Homo sapiens: one gene and its partners. The protein of the gene in region 1 interacts with the protein of each later gene in a pairwise test. Each region holds a gene or a part of one and is shown in the gene's direction. Other genes may lie near its edges.

Region 1 (4,383 bases):
GTGGATCACTTGAGGTCAGGAATTCGAGACCAGCCTGGCCAATATGGACATGGTGAAACCCCATCTCTACTAAAAATACAAAAATTAGCTGGGCGTGGTGGCCAGTGCCTGTAATTCCAGCTACTTGGGAGGCTGAGGCAGGAGAATTGGTGAACCTGGGAGGCGGAGGTTGCAGTGAGCTGAGATTGCAGCACTGCACTCCAGCCTGGGCAACAGAGCAAGACTCCGGCTCAGAAATAAATGAATGAAAATAAAAATAACTTGAGTGGAATAATAATGATTATGATTGAGAGTCAGCTGTGAGGAGCACTTTGCTGACCACTTGATTTAATTCTCACAGCTATTCTGAGTTAAGTACTGTCAATATTTCTGAAACACACGGAGGTTAGGTAATTTGCCTAGAGTCACAAAACTAGTCTTGCTCAAGTTAAGATTCAAACCCATACAGACAGATTTCAGAGGCTGTGCTCTTAACCCCTTCCCTCTACAGCCTCTCATGACTCCGAATCTCAGAATTGCATCATCGTAAAAAGCCTTCATGGAATCCGGAACCTTGCCATTATTGGAAGTTCACTTTGTGCCTTTGTAACTTATCTGTTGTAGCCATCTGTTCTCCCTCTCTCTTCCACATGGATTGTCAGGCTTTTCCCATAGAGAAGCAGATGATGATGGGATATTGGATTGAGTTGGGAGAATGGGAAAGGCATTTCAGTCCCCAAGTCCAGCTGGGGTGGAGGGAAGGGGTTGTCCAGGTTGCCTCACTCTTGCTGAATCAGGTCACAGGTGGAATTGGAAGGGAGTAAAAAGGCATTGGCATTGAGGGTGAGGTGGTGAGTAGAAGATATTTTGAAAATGGGAGGATTTCATTTAGAAATCTTTTATGAGAGAAAATTTGAATTATTGATCTTCCTAATTGTCTTTCAGTATTCCAAGAAAGTCCACTTAACTTGGAGGAATGAAGTTTCCCACTGATAAACTTCTTTAATCCTGTCACACTCAAAACTTCAGAAACAACCAGAAAGCCACTATCTTCCTTGTATTTTTGTTTTTATTTATTTTATTTTTTGAGACAGAGTTTCACTCTTGTTGCCCAGGCACTCCAGGCTGGAGTGCAATGGCGCCATCTCAGCTCATTGCAATCTCTGCCTCCTGGGTTCAGGCGATTCTCCTGCCTCATCCTCCCAAGAAGATTGGATTACAGGCTTGCGCCACCACGCCTGGCTAATTTTGTATTTTTAGTAGAGACAGGATTTCTCCGTGTTGGTCAGGCTGGTCTCGAACTCCTGACCTCAGGTGATCCACCTGCCTCGGCCTTCCAAAGTGTTGGGATTATAGGCATGAGCCACTGCGCCCGGCCTCTTCCTTGTATTTTTAAAGAAAATGCATTGTCATGACCAGAATTTTCCCTTGGTTGGTTGGCTGATGAGAGTGTATATATAAATGCATGTATTTCAAGTCTTACTTTTCATTCTTTCCTGAGTTGTGTATCTCTTTTTCTCACCCCCATCTCCCATAGATTGAGACTTTCTGAAAGCATGGATTGTTTAAGTATGGCTCCCTCTGCAACACTTGATATTCTTAGAAGCAGATTTTTAAGCTATTAGTAAAAACTTTTAAGATATGTGACGATTCATTAAGTGCTGTCAGACCTCTTACTGTTTTTATCTCCACAGCTGGTTTCTCTGTGGCAGTGCCTTGTTGCTTGTCAGTTTATCAATTGCATTTTACTGCATAGTCTACCTGGAATGGTATTGTGGAATTGGAGAATATGATGTCAAGTATCCAGCCTTGATACCCATTACCACTGCCTCCTTTATTGCAGCAGGAATTTGGTAAGTTAACTTTGAAATGACTAACAGGAATGAACAACAAATTTTTTTTTTGATCAGATAGTGATATGCTTGGTCCAAACTTCGAAAGAAAAAAAGTTAAAACAGAAAAATAGTCTCCTGGTCATTCATGCTCTCTGGTTCCCTTTTGATTAGTATCTCTTTCTCCTTCTATTTATGGATCTAGTTATTTAAAGCACAGATGGTGACATTCTGTACATATTCTGCATTTTGCTTTTTAAATCTATTTTATTATGACATACAGTACATATAGAAAAGTGAAAAAAACTGAGATGAATGAATTAGTGAATGAATTCTCATGAAGTGAGCATTGGTGTAAACTGAGCCAGCACACTGGGAACCCCCTTCATTCTCCCTCCCAGTTACTACACCTTCCCTCCTGCCACAGGTAAATACTGCCCTGACCTTCATGGTAACTACTTGCTTTGCTTCCATTAGATATTCTATTTTTGTTTCAGCTACGCTTTTGAACTTTATAGAAATGGATTTGTACAGGGTGTATTCCTTCACATTGAGCTGGCTGTGTGCAGCATTGTGTGCAGTTCTTTCATATTGTCGCCGGGAACAGTGACTCATCTTCATTGCTCTTTAGCATTCCATTGTTTAATTGAATCCCAGTTTTCTTTTCCCTTGTTGATTGTGTTTAGATTTTTTTCAGTTTGGGGTTACTATGAAGGATGCTATAAAGAGCATTCTTGTACATGGCTCTTGTAGCACAGTGAACACATTTCTGTTGGGTGTAGAGATGTATGTATATATGTATATATATGTACCCCAAGGGGTAAAATTGTTGGATGTACGTACCTTTGACTTCAGTAAATCATGCCAAACTGCTTTCCAAAGTGGTTGTTTGTCCTTTTCTCCTTTTGTTTTTCAGTGGATCCTTATAGTTTGGGATTCTTCCATAATGGTACATATAGATGTGTCTCATTTTTTTAAACAGTTGCATAGTTTTCACAGCATGGACATAACATGATTTATTTAACCTGTCTTCTGTTGTTGGACTTCGTTATATTTATACCCAAACAATGCCACAATGAATAACCTTCTTCATAAGTTAATTAAATACTCAATGAAAAATACAGGGTTTTTTGGGTTTATAAAAGTAATACTTGCTCACTGAGGAAAAAAAATCTGTAAATTACATGAAAACACAAAGGAAATATATCCTATGATTCAACCAGAAAGAAAACTACTTTTCCTATGTTGTGTGCAGCTCTCTAGTTTTTTCTTTCTTTATATCAATTGGATTTTTTTTTCTTTTTGGAGATAGGGTCTCACTGTGTCACCCAGGCCGGAGTGCAGTGGCATGATCACAGCTCACTGCAGCCTCGACTTCCCAGGCTTAAGTGATCCTCCTGCCTCACTCAGCCTCCCGAGTAGTTGGGACCACAGGCATGTGTCACCACATCTGGCTATTTTTTGTATTTTTTGTAGAGATGGGGTTTCGCTGTGCTGCTCAGGCAGGTCTCAAACTCCTGGCCTCAAGCCATCTGCTTGTGTTGGCCTCCCAAAGTGCTGGATTACAGGCGTGCGCCACCACCCCCGGCCTAATTGAATTTTTATTTTGGAAGAACCATATACCTTTATACATATTCTTTCTATGACTTATTTTCTGTAGTTGAAGTTCAAGGTTGTTTGACAGTGTGATGTGGTTATTGTTAACCTGTATGTGGGGGCATGCAGATACGTTGTTTTACTTTTTCCCATGAGGGTAAGATCATGTCCAGAAATGTTAATTTTTTAGACAGTGTGATTTGTGATTATAGTTATTTAATACTCATACTTATCAAACTATTATATATTAAAACCAATAACCATCTGAACTTATTTGAATATAGTTTTCCCTATTCTGTTCTTAGAAATTTCAGTCATTAAAAATCTTTATACTTAGTGTTTTAATTTTACTTTGATGACAGGAATAGTGTTTTTCTCAATGAAAGATATAATAGCAGCTTATAAGTGATAACTGTTTTCATTCTGTTTTTAAGAGACAATATTTTGGTCTTTTTTACCATGATAGTTTAGTGTGTGATGTCATAAAAATGGGCTGTAGCCATTTAAATTATTGTTGAAGTCAGAAACTAAGAGACTTCAGTTTCTATTAAGCCATGTCAACCCCTATTAGGAGACCTTTAGTGGTTCCAGTTCCAGGGCCTTCTTGAAGAAATTGTGATACTTGTTTAAGTATATCTAGAGTTTTCCTTTCCAGCATTGGCTAAGTCACATACTTGAGAAATATGATACATAGAGAAAGTTGCTGACTGGATGAACTTTTCTACATTGAATACTTTAAATCTGGATTCTAGAATAAAATATATTGATGCATATTGGAGTTGTCAACTGTTTATGTCTTGTTCTTTTCAGCTTCAACATTGCTTTATGGCATGTGTGGTCGTTTTTCACTCCATTGTTGTTGTTTACCCAGTTTATGGGGGTTGTCATGTTTATCACACTCCTTGGATGATTTCCGAAGGTAAGATATCTGGAGTGGTTTTTCTAAAAATGAACTCGTTTGAAAAATGTCTTTTAT
Region 2 (4,383 bases), on another chromosome or scaffold:
AAGTAGTTCCATTTATTTTACTGGAATAAATGAGAGGTGAGCAAGCTAATTTTAAAAACAAAATTTTGTGCTTTTATGGTGTTCTCTATTTTTTCAACAGAAATTGCCTGTTTGATTATTATGTATATATTTGTTTTCTGTAGAATTTCTTATTAAGATTCCTCTTCATGTTTATATTTTATGAAGATGAAATGTGAGGAGTGAATTTGTAAAAGAGATGATGATGGTTATTAATATACTATATTTGAGATTACTTTGCAGATTTGTTTAATACATTCTGTACCCCAGTACCCATTGTATTTGTTCACCTCTCCTCACTTAGATCCTTTCCTAGTGAGCATATTATTCCAGACATTGGAATCAGGGATTAGATTTGTGTGATAAGGACAAGGCAGGAGTCAGAGATCAAGTGTTAAGGCACCAGTCTAGGTCAGCAGTCAAGATCTTATAAAAGTTTAACGCTTCATCCCCCTTAGTGGAGTACTGAACCCCACTTATTTGGGGTTTGGTATGGCCCCATTCATGAATTTTGGTTCAGTTTGGTACGGCTCCATTCATGAATCAATGAATGTGGAAATAAACTCTTGAAATTTTATTGTTCCTAAGTTTATCTTTTAAAAATATGTTACCAAATTGCTCCTCAGAAAGGATTAAAAAAGAGAAAACACAGTTTCTACTCCTACCAACAGTACGTTGGAGTGCCTTTTTCACTGAGAAAATCAAGAGTCATCGGTTTTTCATCTCCTTCACATTATAGGGGAACCTGCTTTCTGCTTTGAGTTTCTGGGGTTTTTTTTGTTTTGTTTTGTTTTTATTACTAGGAAGATTAACTTTTTTTCCTTGCGCATTTTTGTTTCTCTCAGCAGTTGTCCATTGATTACTGTTGTGTTTTTTCTATTGGGGCAGGTGTGTTTTCTTAATGAATTTTTAAAAAGAAATTTTAAGTGTTTGTCGTAGCTACTGTTTCTCTGTAGTACAATTGACACTTGAACAACGCAGGGTTTAGGAGCACTGAACCCTGCCTTGCCAGCACAGACAGAAATCCACATATAACTTTTGACTTCCAAAAAACTTAATTACTAATAGCCTCCTGTTGACTAGAAGCCTTACTGATAACATGAATAGTCAGTTACCACATATTTTTTATGTTATATGTATAATTTATTGTATTCTTAAAGTTAGAGGAAAGGAAATGTTAAGAAAGTCATAAGGGGCGGAGCACGGTGGCTCACGCCTGTAGTCCCAGCACTTTGGGAGGCTGAGGTGGGCAGATCACTTGAGGTCAAAAGTTCAAGACCAGCCTGGCCAACATGGCGAAACCCTGTCTCTACTAAAAATACAGAAATTAGCTGGGTGTGGTGGTGGGCACCTGCAATACCAGCTACTTGGGAGGCTGAGGCAGGAGAATCACTTGAACCTGGGAGACAGAGGTTGCAGTGAGCTGAGATCATGCCACTGCACTCCAGCCTGGGCGACAGAGCAAGACTCTTGTCTAAAAAAAAAAAAATTAAAAAGAAGAAAAAAATACATTGACTATTTATTAAGTGGAAGTGGATCATCATAAAAGTCTCCATCCTCATCTTCTTCCCATTGAGTAGGCTGAGGAGAAAGAGGAAGAGGGGTTGGTCTTACTGTCTCAGGAAGGTTTCAGAGGCAGAAGAGGTGGAAATGGAGGCTGGGGAGGCAGAGGAGGCAGGAGAGGAAGGCACACGTGTAACTTTCATTAAAAACAAATTTGTGTGTAAGTAGAACTGTGCAGTTCAAACGTGTGTTGTTCAAGGATCAGTTGTATAATATTGCAAGTATTTTCTTTCCATTTGTTATATTTTCAACTTTTTGTGCTTTTTAAATATAAACATTTAAAATGTTTGAATTCAGGCTGGGTGTGGTGGCTCACACCTGTAATCCTAGCACTTGGGAAGATCGCTTGAGCCTAGGAGTTTGAGATCAGCCTGGGCAATATAGTGAGACCCCATCCGTACAAAAATGTTTTAAAAAATTAGCCAGAAGTAGTGGCATGTGCCTGTAGTCCGAGCTACTTGGGGGGCTGAGGCAGGAGGATCGCTTGAGCCCAAGAGGTGGAGGCTGCAGTAAGCCCAGGTTGCCCCACTGCAGCCTAGCCTGGGTGACAAAGTGAAACCCTGTCTCAATCAATCAATCAATCAATCAATCAATAAGACTAAATAAAAATTTTAAATTCAAATATATTACTGTTTCAGTGTAATGTTTAGAAAGTTCATCAGCATTACAAGATTACATTCACATATACTTTTTTCTTGTAGTTTTATATTTTCATTTTTAACATTAAAAACTGTTAATCTATTGCAATCTATTTAGCTTATAGGGAGCAGCCTTCATCCTGAGTACAGGACACAAGGTCTGTGAAGCTATGATGCTCAGTAAATCTCTGGGCCTTATAGCAGATTCTAACCCTTACACATTCTCATCTACAGATTTTGAGCTCCTGTTATTTATAACATAGCATCTAGGTGATGAAATAGTGCATGTAAAATATAATGATCGAATATGCAAGAGTTGAAATATGATTTTTAAGATTTTTAATGAGAATCAGGAAAGAGGATTTTAGAAGGGGTGTAATTTTACCTGGGTCTTGAAGAAATTCATGCAACAAATTTTGCATACAAATTTTGGCAACAAAATTCTTTGTTTATATGAAAATATACATGTTATATAACTTCTTATATATTATGCATACATAACTAACAAAAATGTTTTTACTGTTATTTAACCAAAAAGAAAGATATAATAAGTACCATATGCCTGCCAGGTTTTATAAATATTAATCTTTAGTCATCATATTTCAATTTTATTTTAATAAGTAGGTAACAAATCCTTGAAACTTCCTGCCCCCTATTCATCTCCCACCATTCTTCCACAGAGTTAACCTTTAATTGGAACTGATTTCTTGTCCATCTGTGTTTTTTCAGCATCACAAATACAACCTATCAAAGCTTTACTTCAAATTTATTAGTAAATTGTTTGCTGTGGCCAAGTCTAAAATAAGATACAGTACACAATGTTTCTAGTGGTCTGTTTTGTCCTCTTTGCTATGAACTTTTTCACTGAGGGAATACTTAGCTCCCTAATACCATCATTCTTGGCCTAAATAAATATAACTGTAAATCTAGACCATTTATAGAAATTGCTGAGTTCTTAATTTTCCAATTAAGCTGTATGTACAGATTAGCAAGGATTATCTATTGTGCTGTATGCTGAACTGGAATATTTTACATCTCTTTTTATCCCCCTAGTTCTTCTTGATTATGCATAGTAAGAATTTTAGAATTTTAATATAGAAAAGGACCTAGAGACATTCTTATTTTACCCCCTTATATTTTAGAGATGAAAAAATGGACACTAAGAATTTGACTTGATCAGGGCTTAAAAGCAGGCTATAAACCCAAGCTTGGCCTTCTCACTATTTATTCATACTCAGTAAATTTAGATAATGATTTTGCTGTAATATGGGGTTCTAGATCTGAATTGAAATGTCAGAAAATAGTGTACTGCAATAAAATCACACTGTTTTTTCGATACATTTTTTTCTTTCTATCAATTTGTCGTATAGTGATTTTTTAAAATTCTCACATATGTATCATAAAACCTTGTTCTAAAGTCTTTTTTTGTATATGTATTTGTTACTTTTAGAATTTATGTTTATGTTAAAATTTAGAATTTGCTTCATGTAGTTTTAAATACTGTAGATAATAGAGTTCCGATGTGTCAAACTTTGATTTTAGTGTTTTTAGCGAAATGTTTTCTTTGACTTGCATAATATTTTTGAAGTTAGAAACAGCTTTTATGGGCCAGGCATGATGGCTCGCACCTGTAATCCCTGCACTTTGGGTGGCCGTGGTGGATGGATCAGTTGAGGTCAGGAGTTCGAGATGAGCCTGGCCAACATAGTGAAACCCTGTCTCTACTAAAAATACAAAAAATTAGCCAGGCATGGTGGCAGACTCCTGTAATCCCAGCTACTTGGGAGGCTGAGGCAGGAGAATTGCTTGCACCCAGGAGGCAGAGGTTGCAGTGAGTGGAGATCTCGCCACTGCACACTCCAGCCTGGGTGACAGAATGAGACTCCGTCTCTAAAAAAAAAGGAATAGCTTTTATCTAATTATCATATTGAAAGTATTGTCTTCCTTAGTTAAAAGATGAGGAAGTTTAGACTTGTAGGTGTTCAAATGATTGTGATAATGTCATTCAGGAAAGATTCAGAATTTAAATGTTTTCTAAGTTCAATCCTCCCTAATGCCATGATGCTTATATTTCTGATTTTTTTTTTTTTTAAATAGAGACAGGATCTCACCATATTGCCCAGGTTGGTCTCAAACTCCTGGGCTCAAACAGTCCTCCTGTCTT
Region 3 (4,383 bases), about 83 Mb from region 1:
GTATTTTTGGTAGAAAACGGGGTCTCACCATGTTGCCCAGGCTGATCTCGAACTCCTGAGCTCAGGGGATCCACCCACCTCAGCCTCCCAAAGTCCTGGGATTATAGGCATGAGCCACGCTCCCAGCAGATCTATTTCTATAAAGCATTATTTGCCTCTTCTAGATACAATTGAGATGTGCTGTATATAATGGGGTTTCACTCTGAACGCATTCTCGCTTGTACCTGTTAACTAAATACCTTAATGGCAGCAAGGTCATCAGAATTACCTGGGCAGATTCCTTAAAATACACATTCCTGGACCTTACCCCTGGATATTCTAATTCAGTGCAGTATAAAAAGTGTGATTCAGCAAGACTTGAGAACCTCTTTGTTTATGGAATTTTTGGTTTGAGTTCTTTTTTTTTTTTTTTTTTTTTGAAATGGAGTCTCACTCTGTCGCCCAGGCTGGAGTGCAGTGGCGTGATCTCAGCTCACTGCAAGCTCCACCTCCCGGGTTCACAAGCGATTCTCCTGCCTCAGCCTCCCTAGTAGCTGTGATTACAGGCACGCACCATCATGCCGGGCTAATTTTTGTGTTTTTGTAGAGATGGGGTTTCACTATGTTGGCCAGGGTGGTCTGGTCTGGAACTCCTGACCTCAAGTGATCCACCCTCCTTGGCCTCCCAAAGTGCTGGGATTACACGCGTGAGCCACCACACCTGGCCTGAGTTCTTTTTTTTTTTTTTTTTTTTTTTTTTTTGAGATAGAGTCTAGCTCTAGCTTTGTCGCCCAGGCTGGAGTGCAGTGGTGCGATCTCGGCTCACTGCAAGCTCCGCCTCCCGGGTTCACCCCATTCTCCTGCCTCAGCCTCCGGAGTAGCTGGGATTACAGGCGCCCGTCACCACGCTTGGCTAATTTTTTTGTATTTTTAGTAGAGACGGGATTTCACCGTGTTAGCCAGGATGGTCTGTATCTCCTGACCTCGTGATCTGCTCCCTCGGCCTCCAAAAGTGCTGGGATTACAGGCGTGAGCCACCGCGCCTAGCCCATTATCAGATATTTTGAAGTAGCTATTTTGAGGTGGCCATTTTAGTATCAGAACTTTTTTTCTTTTTCTCTTTTCTTTTCTTTTTTCTTTTTTTTTTTTTTTTTTGAGACAGTCTTGCTCTGTTGCCCAGGCTGCAGTGTAGTGGTGTGATCTTGGCTTACTGCAACCTCCGCCTCCTGGGTTCAAGCAGTTCTCCTGCCTCAGCCTCTCGAGTAGCTGGGATTACAGATGCCCGCCACCACGCATGGCTAATTTTTGTATTTTTAGTAGAGACGGGCTTTCACCATGTTAGCCAGGATGGTCTCGATCTCCTGACCTCGCGATCCGCCTGCCTTGGCCTCCCAAAGTGCTGGGATTTGTATATTTCTTAATAATGAAAGCAAGCTGAGAATCAGATATTTTGAAGTAGCTGTTTTGAGGTGGCCATTTTAGTATCATTTTAGTATCAGAACGTTTTTTTTTTTTGAGACAGAGTCTTGCTCTGTTACCCAGGCTGGAGTGTAGTGGCGTGATCTTGGCTCACTGCAACCTCCGCCTCCTGGGTTCAAGCAATCTTCCTGCCTCAGCCTCTCGAGTAGCTGGGATTACAGGCAGATACCTGTAATATATATATACAGGCTGATAAATATTATATACTTATATAGTATATATAAATATATAATATAATATGTATATATGAGATGTGCTGTATAATAATAATTAATAGTATAATACATATACATATACATATATAATAGTATAATACATATACTATTAATACTATAATACTATAGTATATTATACTATAATATACTATTACTATATTATACTGTTATACTATATTATACTATAGTATACTAATAATAGTATATACTATTATTATATACTAATATAATAGTATAGTATACTAATACTATATTATACTATTAATATATAATATACATACATATACATATAATATGTGTAATATAATACATATATGTATATATGAGTTGTGCTGTATATAATGCTGTGTATGTATATATGAGATGTATATGTAGATGTATATGTATATAATGCTGTATATGTATATATGTACATATTATATATGTATATATAATATATATTATATAATATAAATATAACAATATAAATATTATATATATATCCAGGAATCTGCCCAAGTAATTCTGATGACCTTGTTGACATTAAGGTAGTTAGTTAGGTACAAGCAAGAATGCGTTCAGAGTGAAACCCCATTATATACAGCACATCTCAATTGTATCTAGAAGAGGCAAATAATGCTTTATAGAAATATATCTGCTGGAGCGTGGCTTATGCCTAGAATCCCAGCACTTTGGGAGGCCGAGGTGGGTGGATCCCCTGAGCTCAGGAGTTCGAGATCAGCCTGGGCAACATGGTCACCTGAAGTCAGGAGTTCAAGACCAGCCTGGCCAATATGATGAAACCCTGTCTCTATAAAAATGCAAAAATTAGCTGGGCATGATGGCAGGTGCCTGTAATCCCAGCTACTTGGGAGGTTGAGGTGAGAGAATCACTTGAACCTGGGAGGCGGAGGTTGTAGTGAGCTGAGATCATGCCACTGCACCCCAGCCTGGACAACAGAGCAAGACACCATCTCAAAAAAAAAAAAAAATATATATATATAAATATATATATATATATATTTATATATATTTATATATATATATTTATATATATTTATATATATATATTTATATATATATATTTATATATATTTATATATATATTTATATATATATATTTATATATATATTTTATATTTATATATATATATAAAATCATATATATATACACGCAAAACATATTCTCTCTTATTTGAGAGAGCTAAAAATTAAAATAATCGAACTCTTGGAGATAGAGAGTAGAAGGATGGTTACCAGAGGCTGGGAAGGGTAGAGGTGGTGTAGGGAAGAAGTAGGGATGGTTAATGGGTACCAAAAATTAGAACAAATAGGCTACTCTGGTTGCACTGCCTGTGAGTTAGCCCTGCTCTGCAAGGAGCAGCCATAAAGAATTTTTTGTTAGTAAAAATGATTAATAATAGTAATTTAATTGTACATTTTAAAATAACTAAAAGTATAATTGGATTGTTTGTAACACAAAGGGTAAATGCTTGAGGGGATGGATACCTGATTTACCCTGATGTGATAATTATGCACTGCATGCCTGTATCAAAATGTCTCATGTAACCTTGAATATATACACTACTATGTACCCACAAAAATTTAAAAACAAAATTAATACAAAAAAATACAAAACAGACATTCATATCCTGGGGAGGTAATAGGCAATGATGAAGAAAGGGTCAAGAGTGTCTGGGAAAATCCTTTGGTAATATAAAATAGTATATAGGTATAAATGGTGTTGATCAGGGTCAAAAAACTTAGCTTGACACTTTACTAACGTAAATATAATCTGATGAAATTCAATTCTGACTGAAGAGCCTTCAGCATGGCAGATTGATGCCCTACAGGAGTACTGGTAGACTTTTGCCCATGGCCTCCTTTCTGTTTGGGGTGGCTTGTCTTGGGCTCTGACGTCAGACAGATCTGGGAGAGTCCCAGCTCCATCTTTTAATAGCCATGTGACCTTGGGTATGAAACTCAACCATTCTGTTTCATGTTTTCATCTTTAAAGTGAGCATATAAGAATTGCTGTCTCATTGAGTTACTGTGAGAATTCAATAAGAAAAATAATGAAATCATGTAAATGCATAACAAAGTAAAAGCCCCTCATAGGCTATTTGCCACTTTTCCCTCAGTCCCCCAACACACTGTAGCACTATCTCTAAATAATGATAACTCTGTTAATAGAGCTAGGTTTCATTTGAAACACAGTGTATAACAAAATGCATTAGGACGCTAGGGTCTATCCGCCCAAGCATCTTAGTTGCTTATGGAACCATAAAAATCTCATATAAGGTATTTTTGCATTGCTACCCCTTGGAATTATGGTACTCCAATCTTATAAAAAGTAGGGCTTAAGCATCAAGATTCTATGATCTTTCTTAGTTGAAGAGATAGTTATTGATTATATTCTAGTCCAGAAGATATAACAATTATTTTGAAAAAAAGTTACATTACCTGTAATGGTCCCCTTTTGAGTATAGTCTTTTTTTTTTTTGAGACAGAGTCTCGCTCTGTCGCTCAGGCTAGAGCACAGTGGCGCAATCTCAGCTCACTGCAACCTCCGCCTCCCGGGTTCAGGCGATTCTCCTGCCTCAGCCTCCTGAGCAGCTGGGATTACAGGTGCACGTCACCACGCCTAGCTAATTTTTGTACTTTTAGTAGAGACTGGGTTTCACCATGTTGGTCAGGCTGGTCTTGAACTCCTGACCTCATGATCCACCTG
Region 4 (3,716 bases), on another chromosome or scaffold:
AAAAGCAGCAGCTGTGGGCACAGCAGATGTCACTTGAGGCCACCTGGTGGGCTTCCTTAAGCATCACTGCTTCCAGAAAGCATGGCCCCCTCTCCAAGACAGGAAGGATCTGGTAGCTCTGCAAGTCCTCCCAGGAAGGAGGGAACAAGCATGTGGCCCTGGCTGCAATTGATTTGAAAATGTTATTTTTCTTAAGCACCTCCCTTGCTGAGGCAGTTCAGATTTGCTTGTTTTTCTTCTAGTAGAGATGAAAAACCTATTGTCCGCTGTTCTGGGATACTTCAGAACCTCAGGCAGACCTGGGGCCTACTGTGTTTGTGATCTGAGTCCATCTGACATGGAGCTCCCTCAACCTCCTCCCAAGGTCCTGGTGTCAACCTGGGAGTCACCACCAAGCCGAACCCTCTCCGCCACCCCACTATACCAGAATTAGAAATCAGGCTGGGCGTGGTGGTTTATGCCTGTAATCCCAGCACTTTGGGGAGGCCAAGACAGGCGGATCACCTGAGGTTAGGAGTTCAAGACCAGCCTGGCCAACATGGCGAAACCCTGTCTCTACTAAAAATAGAAAAATTATCTGGGCGTGGTGGCAGACACCAGTAATCCTAGCTACTTGGGAGGCTGAGGCAGGAGAATTGTTTGAACCCAGGAGGTGGAGGCTTCAGTGAGCCAAGATCATGCCACTGCACTCCAGCCTGAGCAACAGAGCGAGGCCTCATCTGAAAAAAAAAAAAAAACAAAAAAAAACCCTGTAATCCCAGCACTTTGGGAGGCCAAGGCGGGCAGATCACGAGGTCAGGAGTTTGAGACCAGCCTGACCAACATGGCAAAACCGCCTCTACTAAAAATACAAAAATTAGCCGGGCATAGTGGCAGGCACCTGTAATCCCAGCTACTCAGGAGGCTGAGGCAGGAGAATGGCGTGAACCCGGGAGGTGGAGGTTGCAGTGAGCCGAGATCGTGCCACTGCACTCCAGCTTGGGCGACACAGCAAGACTCCATCTCAAAAAAAAGAAAAAAAAAAGAAATTAGCAGTGCACATCATAAGATACTAACAAAGTACTATCTCTTTAATGCATATCTGAATTTTGAATTGGATGGATGGTGTCCTGTTCTGAATGTTAAAATTCAGAACTTCCAAATATGGACTTATTTCTTCTAGTGATAATAACTAGCATTCATTGTGCTTTTGCCATGTGCAGGGACCTGTGATTAGTATTTTTTCATATATTAGCCGATAACAAATTCTGTGAGGTCAGTACAATTATCTGCCTTTTACCAACAAGGAAACTGAGACTTAAGGAGGCTAAGTGGGCTGCTCCATGTTATTGGGTCAATGGGAACAGAGATCTGGGAGTGGAAACCAGGCTGCCTGCCTGCCAATCCTGTGCTCCTACTCATTCCGGGCCACATCTGGGGAGCTAAATGTTGTTGGGGTAGTGTGCAGGGGAAAGCTTTGTATATGGAGAGGAGTGTCTGAACCCCCTCTCCGAGTTTCCTTGGTGTTCAGACTTTTCCATTCCTCCATCCTGGGTCCTGCTTTCCCACAGGAAGCTCTTTGTGTTCCTGGCCGTGCTCATCTGCCTGGTGACCTCCTCCTTCATCGTCTTTTTCCTGTTTCCCCGGTCCGTCATTGTGCAGCCTGCAGGCCTCAACTCCTCCACAGTGGCCTTTGATGAGGCTGATATCTACCTCAACATAACGGTGGGTGGGTGCCCTTGGCTCCAAACCCCCCTTCCTAGCAATACTTCGCTGTAACCTTTGTCCAGTGTTATGACCCTGGGCATGGGAAGCCAGAGATCTTATGGCACCCAGAGGGTGTTGGGAGCCTGAAGAGAAGTAGGAGCAACCATGAGCTCCATGACAGATGGTAAGGATTGGGACTCTACACAGTAAGGGGTCAGAATCCGGGCCAGATAAGTAAACCACAGGGGTGGAGTGGGGTGACAGTGCCTGAGACTCTCTGGATGGACAGGACTGAATGGAAAGAAGCTGTACAGGATGGACCTGGATCCTGAGGCAGCTTAACTTCGTAAAGTTGACCCCTCACCATTCAATGCCCCTCCAAGGGGCTCCCAGTTTTCATCCTCTGCACCTGAAGCTTGTCATGGTAGATGGGGCTCAGGCCAGACAGCCAGGCTTTTGCAACTGTTTGGCTTTTCCTAAGGATGGGCCATCTTCACTCCTCCCTTCCCTTGTCTTCATCCCCAGAATATCTTAAACATCTCCAATGGCAACTACTACCCCATTATGGTGACACAGCTGACCCTCGAGGTTCTGCACCTGTCCCTCGTGGTGGGGCAGGTTTCCAACAACCTTCTCCTACACATTGGCCCTTTGGCCAGTGAACAGGTGACTCCCCTCTCCCTGGCCAGCCCTGCCCACTGGTGTGTGGATGTGTGGTAGTGGGAAAGGGGCAGCTGGAGTTGGGGCTAACCCTGTGCCCATTTGGTTGACAGATGTTTTACGCAGTAGCTACCAAGATACGGGATGAAAACACATAGTGAGTACCCCTTGATCTCTTCTCCCCTAGCCACTTGCCTGGCTTAGGGACCCAATTAATACCCACCAGCTTTCCTGATTGCTTAGCAAATTCTTCAGCCAGCATCTGGCCTGCCCTCCCATGGCCGAGAATGTAATAAGCAAGGGTTCAGGGTCCCCAGCCTCTGCTTGTTTGGACCTTGATTAGAATGAAAAACAGGCTGGAATTTGGTTAATCTTTACAATATGTGACCTTGGGCTCTTCAGCCTGCATTGCTGAGGAAGAAGAATGTTTTGTCTGTCTCCTGAATGGGGGTCCAGCATGTGCCTGGGCCAAGTGAGTGGAGGTCAGAGTGATAGTGCAGCCATGCTGCTACACTCACCTGAAGGGTGGGAAGGGGTGGGAGTGACATTTTGGGGGCACCTGATGGAAGGAAAGAGTTCTGTGGGGTAAGGAAACTGGGACCTGCAGGCATCTTCTGAGCTGACAGGCTGCTCCATGTGACACGTGGTCCCACGTTCTCTTTTCTTCTCTCTCAGCAAAATCTGTACCTGGCTGGAAATCAAAGTCCACCATGTGCTTTTGCACATCCAGTAAGTAGAGCTTGGAGCTCTGGTATCCCTGCTCTCACTTCTGACTTCATTCTCACTCAGCTACACCTCATGGGCAGAGAGTCTTCCAAGCTGACCCCATGAATCTTTGTTGGCTCTTGGGAATAGCAAGTCTAGCCCCTTTTCTGAGTCTCACCTTGCCTATAAGTTATTAGGGGCAACAGGCATAGGGCTGTCTGGAAGCTGCTGGAAAACAGGTGGGGCAGCTGTCCCAGGTACCTTGGCAGAGTGGGGAGCCAGAGGGAAGGGCAAATGAGGGAGCTCCCCGCTCCCCACCCCCAGACAGTATAATGGGGCCAGAGCTTTCCTTTTCCTCCCAGCCATGGCAACAAGGCCTGCTTCCTCTCCAGGGGCACCCTGACCTGTTCATACCTGAGCCATTCAGAGCAGCTGGTCTTTCAGAGCTATGAATATGTGGACTGCCGAGGAAACGCATCTGTGCCCCACCAGCTGACCCCTCACCCACCATGACCTGTCTGCTGTCCCTGTACTCCAGGCACCTGCAACCCTGGTCTATATCTCCCACAACTCCCTGGTGACTAAGGAAGGACTACAGAGGCTTTGCCAAAGGAGAAGCCCTGCCTCATCACACCCTTACCTCCCACCCCCTCAGCACAGGAAGC
Region 5 (4,383 bases), on another chromosome or scaffold:
AACATACCTGGGAGATATGACCCACCTTCCTCAGTAACAGTTTTCTCTGAAGCAGCAATTCACAAATGGGAATGGTAGTGTGTCATTTCTTTACTTGCCCTATCTTGTCTATATCTCCTCTTCTATGACCTATTCCCCAAAAAATAATTTTCCCAAAATTGGTTACCCTAAGCAACTGCCCATGTTCTCATAGGGACTGGGAAAAGGCCCTAATAAGACCTAAGGATTTTTATAAATAAAGATCATTATAAGTGCTAATATCTATGAAATGCTTATCATATGTGAGGCACTATGTGAAGTTATTTCATCAATCATTTTACTGAATTATCACAATTCTGTCAAGTAGGTGGCTCCACTAAAGATGGTCCTAGGATTCTAGTTCGCTCTAACATACAGCAGAACCTGATGTTCTGTTCATTTCCTCTTTCTTCTCTTTCCAGCTCATAGTAAAGTCTCATCTTCATCAATTGGATTTTTGTATTTAATTGATAGTTCCATCCTGCTCCAAAACATAGCATTTAGAAATTCAAATTCAGTTCAAATGACACTGTTTTGCTCTCTCATCTCTTAATATTTACCAAACATATTCTCCCCATTTGTTATCTCTTATTTAAAAATTCCCATATGGCTTCTTATTGATAATGTCAACATTCTGCTTCAAACCTTCTCTAGAGCCAATTAAGGTATAATTTGTAATTAAATACATAACTTCTATTGTACCTTCACTAGGTGATCTGTCAAGAATGCTATTGCTGAGGTGCTCTGGGCCCTGTGAACCAGAACCTTAAACTGTCTAGAACTGCTCTGTCCAACATGGTAGTTGCTAGCCACATGTAACTATTTATAATTAAATTTTAATTAAACTTTTTAAAATTAAAAATTTAGCCCCCCAGTCACACTAGTCATATTTCAAGTGCTCAATAACTCTATATGGCTAATGACAACTGTGTTGGACAGGGCAGATATCAGAAAATTTTTATCATTTAAGAAAGTTGTGTTGAAAAATGCTGCTTTAGACAGTACTAAACACACCCTCACAGCAACCAAGAACTAGGAACTGGGAAGAAGTAAGGACCTACTCTTCTTTGAATCTTCTGCCAAGAAAGAAAGAAAAAGCCACTTATGCCTAATACATCACCAGTAGCCCAAAGATACCTAGGACAATTAGGCTATGAAGGAGTGTGCATGTCTTACTTAAGGAGCTGGTAGCCTCTGGAGTTTGCTTCATATGAATTCTATGTTACTATAAAGTAAAATATTCCATGAATGAGGTTTGCTGGTTTCATGAATTTTGACTTAGATACAATCTGAAAGTTCCAATTCAAAATCCAAGTTTATAGATTACATGTATATGTAATAACATGTGTGTGTGTTTATCTTGTCTTAGTAATCATAGTATGATAGACATGGAAAGAATATAAGACTTGGAGTCAGTAGTACAGGTGTCACATACTACTTGGTGACATTATGAGGCCCTCTAGAGCTCCATTTCTCCATCTCTAAGATGTTGATGAGAATTGCCATAACTATCTCAAAGGACTATTGTAAAACTCAAAGTGTAGGTATACGAAAGTACTTTGTAAGGAGCATGATTGAATCTGCAATGGTTTATTATTTTATATAGATATGGTACAATGTACAAATAGGGTAGTTCAGGCTGAATGCATTTCTGAATGATTTTAATCTGATATGACTGTATTTTTGCCTTTGTGGTCATTTATTTCACTGAAAAGTGGAACGGTGAAGAAAAAATTTAGTTATTGAAATTTCTGATTGGTTAGATTCTATTAATTGAAATACCGTGCATTGTTTGTTGTTTAGTTTATTTGGTCCTGAACATTTTCTTCTCAGGATTAAAAAAAATAATAACTAGGAAATCTAAGTTGTTTGGAACAGCTTTTACCTTTTAACTAATAGTTTTTAAGTAATCATCAATAATGAACCCATCATGGTAATAGGGGTTCAGAAATAACAAAATACAAGCATTATGGATATTCCTCAGTGTGAGGGGGTGAGAGGGATAATTTTCAAAACATATTTTTACTAATTACAAATTGAAATGAGCTTCTATCCATTCTCATAGATCAATCAGAACAAGAATAATTCTATTTCATGCATTGATTAAACCAAAACAAAAGTGAAGGTCATTAACTTGACTGAATTATTGAGTTTGCATTAGGGATTCTAACCTTAAATAACAAGTCTTTATTCATTCTCTAAGTTGAAATCTGTTGGGGTCATTAGGAGAACCTTATGCATCTGGCTAACATTTACTCCCAAACCTGGCATCTATGACCTACTCCCGCACTTTGATCTGTGTATGCTATTTATGCGTCAAGTAAAACTGCTTTTCAGATGCAGCCATACCTTCTATAGTGGCTCACGATTTTGATACTTAAATATTTTTCTCTTATAACACAAAGATTAACACAGTGCTCAGATATTGTAGAAAATAAGCCTGGAAACAAAGCTATTCCATCAGATGTTTCTTCACTGTATTTATTAGGTTTTATCATCTTGAAAACTCAACGAAGTCACTTTATTTATTCATTCATTCATTAACAAAGCACCTGAGAATCAAGCTGAGTATGACCAAGGGCATGAGGTTTTATCTCCAGTTCCAGAGATCTAGTTTACCTTTGTTTAGAGTTAACAAAGGTATAGATGCTACCTTGTAAGATGCTCTGCCAGGTAAATAGTTGAGATATACACTTAGCCACTGTTTCTGGTCAAGCCTGCTGTCCTCAAGCCTTTGTTGCATATGGGACTATATTACTGAAGGAAAAATAAGCGAAGCTGTTAACTCTGGCCTCTAGTAGATGATGCTAGCTTTAACAATAAACATATGTTGTTGGGCGTCATGATTTATTCACTTCATTGGACTTGTTTACCTCTTGGAAAGACCTGGATTTTGGAAAGGGGAAAATGCCATTACCTTGGAGCTGAAAAGAGTTCTTCTCTGTCTGTAGCTTAAAGGATTTCTCTAATTGTAGATCCCAAGAGATAAAGAGAACTGACAATGTAGCTTTGAAACAAATCCTAATAGCATACAATCATCCATTTAATCAATAACATAGTTGAAGAATGTCCTATTTTGACACAAAAATGTTGTGGTTAAGGATGTTTGGAACACATGGATGATCAATAAATATTTGGTGAATTCAGACCATTGTTCCAGGTTAATTCATGCCATACACTCGTCTATCTCTACCAAGAATTCAGTATTCCCTATGGCATTTTCCTTTAGCAAATAAAACAGGAGGCAAACACAGTATATCAAATCTTACCCTAATAACCACACTTCTAGCCCTTCTCGGGGCATAAATAGTGATGGCCAAGATAGACTACTCCTGAGAACCGTGTCTTGCTGCTTCACCCAGAAAACAAAGCACAAATCAGCCCAAGGGCCTTGCATTTCACTGTGATGAGGCAACTTCAGAAACTCAAAGCTTAAATGGAGTTGTGTGTTCTTTTCCACTCTTATCTTGAAGAGATACCTGTCATTTCCTTCAGAAAGTATTTGGCTGGCCTTCATGATAGCAGCAGGCAATTGCTATTGTTCCTAAATTCAGAAGAAGCTTAGCTTAGAATGAAAGCACATATATTAATTAGAGGAGAACTAGCGACATTGCAGTCTGATGGTTTACAGAATATTATCCTTTTCCAGGAATAATAAGGCTTCCCTTTAACGGTTTTAACTGGTGATTACTGACAAAAATGAAAGAAAAACAGCTCATTCTATTCTAGCAAGTCAATAAGGAAACGCCTAGAATTAACTGATTCTTATTTGCCAAAGGCAAAATATTCCAACCCAATGAACAACAAATGATCAAGCTGGTTCTCATTTTCTCTTCATTTTAAAAAAATTTTTCCATGTTTTTGAAAAATAATCAGTAAATAAGAAACAATTGCACCCAGGTGTTTAAACATTCTGTTGACAAAATGGTCTTCAGAAATGGAAAGGCTTAATTGTTTGTTAGAGATTATACAACATATTATTATGTCAATATTTTATAACAATCACATAACTGAACTCTCTCACTTTAGAGAGAAATTGATGCTGGGAACACTCACCTGAGTTGATGTCAGAGGAATATGACTTGAGTCTTCTCTCTCTCAGGCAATTATAGAACCCACTCTGCATTTTTTAACATCATGCATCATTTCATTAGTCATGAAAACTTGTTTAGTCTATGAGTTTATCAAAGATTCAGGTTTATCTTTTCTCAAAGATTCAGGGAGTAGGAAAGAGTATGTGTTTGGATTTCAGATTATTTCCCTTTGTACCTCCAGGTGAAAGAACTACTGGTCAAGGATGGTCAGCAGGTAGAAATTTCAGGGGTGGAACTATAAGCCATAGAAAAAGATTCAAAACCTCAGCAT
Region 6 (4,060 bases), on another chromosome or scaffold:
GGCGTGGTTCTGCTGCTGGAAGCTGACTGGTGACCACTGGTCAGCATGAAGCAAACTCTGCTTCCTCCAGCCACAGCCCCATCCCCCCAGTGTCCACCCATTGCCCATTGCCTCTCACTGGCTTCACTTGCATATTTCCCCTGGTGTTTGGATGAAAAGCGCTGGGGCTCAGCTTGTGTGAAATTCCTTGGTGCTCTGCCAACCACACTTCGTTCTGGCTCAGCTGACTCAGCTGTTCCACCCAGGCCACCTCACATCAAACTTTTTTTTTTTTTTTTTGAGATGGAGTCTCACTGTGTCGCCCAGGCTGGAGTGCAGTGGCACAATCTCGACTCACTGCAACCTTTGCCTCCTGGGTTCAAGTGATTCTCCTGCCTCAGCCTCCCAAGTAGCTGGGACTACAGGCATGCGCCACCACGCCCAGCTACTTTTTGTATTTTTAGTAGAGATGGGGTTTCTCCATGTTGGCCAGGCTGGTCTCGAAGCCCTGACCTCAGGTGATTCACCCACCTCAGCCTCCCACAGTGCTGGGATTACAAGTGTGAACCACGGTGCCCGGCCTCACATGAAACTTTTGATTTATAGAGAGCAGAGGGAAGAGCCGGCTGTGCCCATCCTTTTCTGGGGCCATCGAGTGGCTCCTGGGCAGCCCCCAAGGTTAGGAAGGGCAGGAGCAGCCAGGGTTCTCTGATGCCCCAGACTCAAGCACGAGGGAAGGTCTCAGGGGTTCCATGTGAGCCTCATGGATGTCTCTGCTTAGCAGAGCCCTGGCTTTGGGCATTGTCCAGATAGGGGGTGAGAACCAGATCTTCTCATCTCCAGGACCTCAGACGTATAGTTTTCTCAGATTTCTGTGCTTTCTGGGGCTGGGCTACTAGTGGAAGAAAGCAGTCTATTCTGTCTTCTCCCAAATCTCCCAGATGCCCAGTCTGTTGAAGGAGGAGCAGAACCAGGGGGCCTTTCCCGCTGAGGCCCGACCTGTGTCTCCTTCAAATGACACGCGGGACTCAGGGCCTTCCCATGACCATGGGGCCCAGGGGGCGTCACCTGGCCCAGGGCCCAGTGCTAGAAACAGATGACCCCAGGAGGAGGAGGCAGGGCAGGAGGGAAGCTGGCAGGGCTGGGATGGTCAGCCAGGCTGAGGGGCGGACTCGCACCAGGATGGAGCTAGGAAATGATCCAGGTGTGTTTGGCGGCTGCAGGTGGGTCCGCATGGCTGTGCAGGGAGGGAAGGGCTGCGTGGCAGGAGAGCAGCCGGGGGAGGCCCAGACTCTGCTGAAGAGATGCCTGTTGTGCCGGCCTCCACATCCGCTGCCCGCTCCTTCCGGAGCTCCTGCCCCGCCATGCTCAGCCTGACTCTGACCAACACGTTGGAGAGAAGAATGATCCCTTTGTGCTATTAAGCTTGCTTATTTGGTTTCTAAGTGCTTCATGCGAACCTAGAGGAAAAAATTATTTTCCACCTTTGTTTGTCTTAAGAAAATAACACACTTTTTTTTTTCCTATTTGAACAGGCAGACGGCTAATCCACATGGTCTTCGTCCTTGACGTCGTTTTACAAGAAAACAATGGGGCTGGTTTTGCTTCCCCGTGCATGATTTACTCTTAGAGATGATTCAGAGGTCACTTCATTTTTATTAAACAGTGAACTTGTCTGGCTTTGGCACTCTCTGCCATTCTGTGCAGGCTGCAGTGGCTCCCCTGCCCAGCCTGCTCTCCCTAACCCCTTGTCCGCAAGGGGTGATGGCCGGCTGGTTGTGGGCACTGGCGGTCAAGTGTGGAGGAGAGGGGTGGAGGCTGCCCCATTGAGATCTTCCTGCTGAGTCCTTTCCAGGGGCCAATTTTGGATGAGCATGGAGCTGTCACCTCTCAGCTGCTGGATGACTTGAGATGAAAAAGGAGAGACATGGAAAGGGAGACAGCCAGGTGGCACCTGCAGCGGCTGCCCTCTGGGGCCACTTGGTAGTGTCCCCAGCCTACCTCTCCACAAGGGGATTTTGCTGATGGGTTCTTAGAGCCTTAGCAGCCCTGGATGGTGGCCAGAAATAAAGGGACCAGCCCTTCATGGGTGGTGACGTGGTAGTCACTTGTAAGGGGAACAGAAACATTTTTGTTCTTATGGGGTGAGAATATAGACAGTGCCCTTGGTGCGAGGGAAGCAATTGAAAAGGAACTTGCCCTGAGCACTCCTGGTGCAGGTCTCCACCTGCACATTGGGTGGGGCTCCTGGGAGGGAGACTCAGCCTTCCTCCTCATCCTCCCTGACCCTGCTCCTAGCACCCTGGAGAGTGCACATGCCCCTTGGTCCTGGCAGGGCGCCAAGTCTGGCACCATGTTGGCCTCTTCAGGCCTGCTAGTCACTGGAAATTGAGGTCCATGGGGGAAATCAAGGATGCTCAGTTTAAGGTACACTGTTTCCATGTTATGTTTCTACACATTGCTACCTCAGTGCTCCTGGAAACTTAGCTTTTGATGTCTCCAAGTAGTCCACCTTCATTTAACTCTTTGAAACTGTATCATCTTTGCCAAGTAAGAGTGGTGGCCTATTTCAGCTGCTTTGACAAAATGACTGGCTCCTGACTTAACGTTCTATAAATGAATGTGCTGAAGCAAAGTGCCCATGGTGGCGGCGAAGAAGAGAAAGATGTGTTTTGTTTTGGACTCTCTGTGGTCCCTTCCAATGCTGTGGGTTTCCAACCAGGGGAAGGGTCCCTTTTGCATTGCCAAGTGCCATAACCATGAGCACTACTCTACCATGGTTCTGCCTCCTGGCCAAGCAGGCTGGTTTGCAAGAATGAAATGAATGATTCTACAGCTAGGACTTAACCTTGAAATGGAAAGTCATGCAATCCCATTTGCAGGATCTGTCTGTGCACATGCCTCTGTAGAGAGCAGCATTCCCAGGGACCTTGGAAACAGTTGGCACTGTAAGGTGCTTGCTCCCCAAGACACATCCTAAAAGGTGTTGTAATGGTGAAAACGTCTTCCTTCTTTATTGCCCCTTCTTATTTATGTGAACAACTGTTTGTCTTTTTTTGTATCTTTTTTAAACTGTAAAGTTCAATTGTGAAAATGAATATCATGCAAATAAATTATGCAATTTTTTTTTCAAAGTAACTACTGCATCTTTGAAGTTCTGCCTGGTGAGTAGGACCAGCCTCCATTTCCTTATAAGGGGGTGATGTTGAGGCTGCTGGTCAGAGGACCAAAGGTGAGGCAAGGCCAGACTTGGTGCTCCTGTGGTTGGTGCCCTCAGTTCCTGCAGCCTGTCCTGTTGGAGAGGTCCCTCAAATGACTCCTTCTTATTATTCTATTAGTCTGTTTCCATGCTCCTAATAAAGACATACCCAAGACTGCAATTTACAAAAGAAAGAAGTTTATTGGATTTACAATTCCACATGGCTGGGGAGGCCTCACAATCATGGCAGAAAGCAAGGAAGAGCAAATCACATCTTACATGGATGGCAGCAGGCAGGGAGAGAGTTTGTGCACAGAAACTCCCATTTTTTAAACCATCAGATCTTGTGAGACCCATTCACTATCACAAAAACAGCACAGGAAAGACCCACCCCCATGATTCAATTATCTCCTATCAGGTCCCTCCCACAACACATGGGAATTATGGGAGCTACAAGATGAGATTTGGGTGGGGACACAGAGCCAAACCATATCATTCTGCCCCTGCACCCCCCAAATCTCGTATCTTTACATTTCAAAACCAATCAGGTCTTCCCAACAGTCCCCCAAAATCTTAACTCATTTCAGCATTAAGTCAAAAGTCTACAGTCCAAAGTCTCATCCAACACAAGGCAAGTTGCTTCCACCTATGAGCCTGTGAAATCAAGAGCAAGTTAATTACTTCCTAGATACAACGGGGGTACAGGCATTGGGTGAATACAGCCATTCCAAATGGGAGAAATTGGCCAAAATAAAGGGGCTGCAGGCCCCTTAAAAGTCCAAAATCCAGCAGGGCAGTCAAATCTTAAAGCACCAAAATGACCTCCTTTGACTCCATCTGTCATATCCAGGTCACACTGATGCAAGAGGTGGGTTCCCATGG
Region 7 (3,468 bases), on another chromosome or scaffold:
GGGGACATTTTTGGTTGTCATAAATTTTGGGAATTACTGGCAACTAATGGGTAGAAGCCAGTGATGCTGTTTAGCATCTTGCAGTGCAGGACAGCTTCTCACAACAAATAATTATATGGCCCAAATTGTCAGTAGCACCAAGGTTGAGAAATCCTGCATATAGCTATCCTGAGGTTTTCTACTTGATGTTTACTTCTTGCCCTCACCCAGTATCATTTTGCTGGGTGTGCTCTGTTCCATTTATATTCATCTCCCGACCACTGTCCGTATCTTTCTCCATCAGAATTTTTCTTTTTTTCTAATTTATTAATCAAGAGAACAATTTTCCACTTTCTCCATCTCTTGTCTGTCTTCTCATAAATTTAACCAGCTGTGTGCTGAAGCTAGCTTACCCTGGTTCATGTGGATTTTGTGTATCTCTTCCCAGTTCTGCATTCAGTAATATCACGTTGGTGGCTTGAAATTGGACAGGGTGGTAGTAATTATCCCATGGAAATGTAAACGCTACAAATCAGGGCTCCCCATCCTCCCACCCCAGAACTAGCATACCACTGAATTAACCTTTTAGCCTGCCTTCACTCAAAAACAGCTTTGTAAAGAAAACATTCGTGCAGAATAACATGTTTTCATTAGGTGAATTCAAGTAAGGATACTGTGAAAGTTTCAGCAGCCATAGCCTAGTCTGGCCAACATGTAGACAAGTGTTTGTAAAGTAGTAATATCCGTATCTTCATTATATATTTTTTCCCAATTTTGGAGTTGAGTTATTGTTTCTAGATCCTCTTTTGAATATCTTCTTCAATGGAAAACTGATGGACCTATCTTTATACACATCCTTACAGGAAGCGGTTTGACAGGGCTGAAGCAGAGTACATTGCAGCAAAGCTAGATATACAGCGCAAGACTGAGATAAAAGAGCAACTCACTGAACACCTTTGTACGATCATACAGCAAAATGAGCTCCGAAAGGCCAAGAAGTTGGAGGAGTTGATGCAACAACTAGATGTAGAAGCCGATGAAGAGACTTTGGAGCTTGAGGTGGAGGTCGAGAGATTGCTACACGAACAAGAAGTAGAATCAAGGAGACCAGTGGTTCGTTTAGAGAGGCCATTTCAGCCTGCGGAGGAGAGTGTGACATTAGAATTTGCTAAAGAGAACAGAAAGTGTCAAGAACAAGCTGTTTCCCCAAAGGTAGATGACCAGTGTGGAAATTCCAGTAGCATCCCCTTTCTTAGTCCAAACTGCCCAAATCAAGAAGGTAATGACATTTCAGCTGCTTTGGCCACATGAAGTTCTGGTATTCTTTTGAGCTAATATGGTATTGAGTAAAGTATACTTTTTGCAGTAGATCATGCCCTGACCTCCAATAAAAACCTCTTTAAAACAATGCTGATTTTTGAATTCATGATTAGTTTTAGTAAATTAATAGGTTTGGCCATTCTAAAATCCAAAATTATGATAACTGTATTTCTAGGGGTATGTTTCACCTTGATTTTGGCCCGGTTCTTTCAGTGTTCCGTTTACCCTTTTTACTGAAAGTAAGTGACTTAAAAGGATGGAAGAAAAACTACATGGTTGGAGTGTTTTTAGATCAGATAAATATAGAAAAGTAAAATGGAAAATGATACTCAATACCTAGTTAAACTCATTTCACTTCTCCTGGGAGACGTATTAAGACTGGAAGTCCTATTTTATTTAATCAGTATCAGTAAAAAGACAAAAATTACAGTGTGAACAAGAGAAAAACAGGAATAGAAGAAAAAAGTTGCAGGTTGAATTATCTATCTGGATATTACTAGAGTTGTAAAACACAACTTGGAAACTGGAATTTATGTGAAGAACCAAACAACTTAAACCAGCATCACTTTTGTCTTCAATTTGCCTTCCAGTGATTTTAGTTTACAACCTGCGTTTTGTTATTTGAAACACACACACTTATATATAAACACATGTAATTTTACTATTTTATTGTCTTTCCTTTAATCGATGAATTGATTAAATTTAGACAATTAAAACATTTCTAAAGTGAGACTGAAAATAATATAGAAAATCTCATTGCTACTTGTGATTATCAAAAAAAGTATGTATTTTCTTTCTAAAGTTATCTATAAATATGTTTTTGATATGTTGGACATGAATTACCCTGTCATGAAGCGTTTAAATTGTTAAAATGCTGATTTTCTTATTAGTTTGTTAATTGCCTGTTACTAGTACTTGACCAATACATTGTGCTATATGTAAATGTGTAAATAAATATTGTAATTTTCTCACAAAGTCTGTGAATATCACATTATGATTTATTTATCAGAAATTCCAAAAAGTAAAAATATTACCTTTGAGGACTTTTTTTTTTTAAAAAAAGAATTATTATCAGAGAACATAAGCACAAGTATAAGATTGTATCCATAAAAGTTTCTGAAAAACTTAGGGACATCCTGTTTTTAAATGGGTTTGTTTGAGGGTATTATCTTCTGGTAATATAGATGAGCTTTATATTTTTATATTATGTAATTTGAGTTGAAAGTATAACATTTTACTACTGACTTCTCTAAACAGAAGCATTTCTATAGATAGTTGTGCTTTTATTTATGAAATACATAAAAGCCAACAGTTTCATTGTCTAACACACTTCTTTTTCTAAGGAATAAACAAGTCTGATGTACTTATAGTGTCTTTCATTTACCTTAAAAAAATTTCAAACAGTTTAGTATGTATTAAGCATTGTGTGACAATAATGCATCTTGGATCTCCTTGTGGTACATACAGTTACTTACTTTTATTAAGCCTCTGTTAAGGAAAATTCATTATCAGTGAGGTTTTATAATATTGGTTAAATGCAGGCATGTGCAATCTTAATTCTCAGTGTAAACCCTTCAAAGATATATGAAGAAATGAGAACCGTGAAAAAAATATAAGTTAGATGAGACCTCAGAGATAATCTAATTTAATCTTTTATTTTTTTGAGATGGAGTCTCACTCTGCCACCCAGGTTGGAGTGCAGTGGCACGATCTCGGCTCACCGCAACTTCCACCTCCCAGGTTCAAGCAATTCTTCTGCCTCAGCCTCCCAAGTAACTGGGATTACAGGTGCCTGCCACCACACCTGGCTAATTTTTCTATTTTTAGTAGAGACGAGGCTTCACCATGTTGGCGAGGCTGGTCTCAAACTCCTGACCTCAGGTGATCCTCCTCAGCATCCCAAAATGCTGGGATTACAGGCGTGAGCCCCCTCGCCCAGCCTCGTTTTATTTTATAGTGAAGAATTTGAGAGCCAAAGATTTCAGTAGCAGCTTGGCCAGCTGGCTCATTTGAAATTTAAAGTGCTAGTAAAGTTGCAGTTCCATATTCCAGGTGTGTCACTTACATATTTCAGGCTGTGAAGTTCACTGCACTGCATCCCTCCACTTGCAAATTTTGCTCTATAACCCGTTGAGGAAGAGTGTGTGTGTGTGTGTGTGTGTGTGTGTG

Evidence for each region.
Region 2: the proteins of TMEM128 (region 1) and ARL13B interact in binary tests that used the Homo sapiens proteins (3 or more experiments, as listed by UniProt).
Region 3: the proteins of TMEM128 (region 1) and HSD17B11 interact in binary tests that used the Homo sapiens proteins (3 or more experiments, as listed by UniProt).
Region 4: the proteins of TMEM128 (region 1) and TMEM106A interact in binary tests that used the Homo sapiens proteins (3 or more experiments, as listed by UniProt).
Region 5: the proteins of TMEM128 (region 1) and SLC7A14 interact in binary tests that used the Homo sapiens proteins (3 or more experiments, as listed by UniProt).
Region 6: the proteins of TMEM128 (region 1) and TMPRSS2 interact in binary tests that used the Homo sapiens proteins (3 or more experiments, as listed by UniProt).
Region 7: the proteins of TMEM128 (region 1) and GORAB interact in binary tests that used the Homo sapiens proteins (3 or more experiments, as listed by UniProt).

Annotation. Positions count from the first base shown.
Region 1 is NC_000004.12:4,237,770-4,242,152, reverse strand, and holds part of TMEM128 (transmembrane protein 128), read left to right. Parts: intron 1-1,673; coding exon 1,674-1,832; intron 1,833-4,217; coding exon 4,218-4,317; 3' UTR 4,318-4,326; intron 4,327-4,383.
Region 2 is NC_000003.12:93,982,862-93,987,244, forward strand, and holds part of ARL13B (ADP-ribosylation factor-like protein 13B), read left to right. Parts: intron 1-4,383. UniProt on the Homo sapiens protein: Cilium-specific protein required to control the microtubule-based, ciliary axoneme structure. May act by maintaining the association between IFT subcomplexes A and B. Binds GTP but is not able to hydrolyze fit; the GTPase activity remains unclear.
Region 3 is NC_000004.12:87,377,222-87,381,604, reverse strand, and holds part of HSD17B11 (estradiol 17-beta-dehydrogenase 11 precursor), read left to right. Parts: intron 1-4,383. UniProt on the Homo sapiens protein: Can convert androstan-3-alpha,17-beta-diol (3-alpha-diol) to androsterone in vitro, suggesting that it may participate in androgen metabolism during steroidogenesis.
Region 4 is NC_000017.11:43,214,238-43,217,953, forward strand, and holds part of TMEM106A (transmembrane protein 106A), read left to right. Parts: intron 1-1,550; coding exon 1,551-1,704; intron 1,705-2,211; coding exon 2,212-2,352; intron 2,353-2,459; coding exon 2,460-2,503; intron 2,504-3,021; coding exon 3,022-3,075; intron 3,076-3,443; coding exon 3,444-3,564; 3' UTR 3,565-3,716. UniProt on the Homo sapiens protein: Activates macrophages and polarizes them into M1-like macrophages through the activation of the MAPK and NF-kappaB signaling pathway.
Region 5 is NC_000003.12:170,578,920-170,583,302, reverse strand, and holds part of SLC7A14 (solute carrier family 7 member 14), read left to right. Parts: intron 1-4,383. UniProt on the Homo sapiens protein: Imports 4-aminobutanoate (GABA) into lysosomes. May act as a GABA sensor that regulates mTORC2-dependent INS signaling and gluconeogenesis. The transport mechanism and substrate selectivity remain to be elucidated.
Region 6 is NC_000021.9:41,463,608-41,467,667, reverse strand, and holds the end of TMPRSS2 (transmembrane protease serine 2), read left to right. Parts: intron 1-1,514; coding exon 1,515-1,526; coding exon of another isoform or gene 1,527-1,548; 3' UTR 1,549-3,363; downstream 3,364-4,060. UniProt on the Homo sapiens protein: Plasma membrane-anchored serine protease that cleaves at arginine residues. Participates in proteolytic cascades of relevance for the normal physiologic function of the prostate.
Region 7 is NC_000001.11:170,551,173-170,554,640, forward strand, and holds the end of GORAB (RAB6-interacting golgin), read left to right. Parts: intron 1-842; coding exon 843-1,290; 3' UTR 1,291-2,662; downstream 2,663-3,468.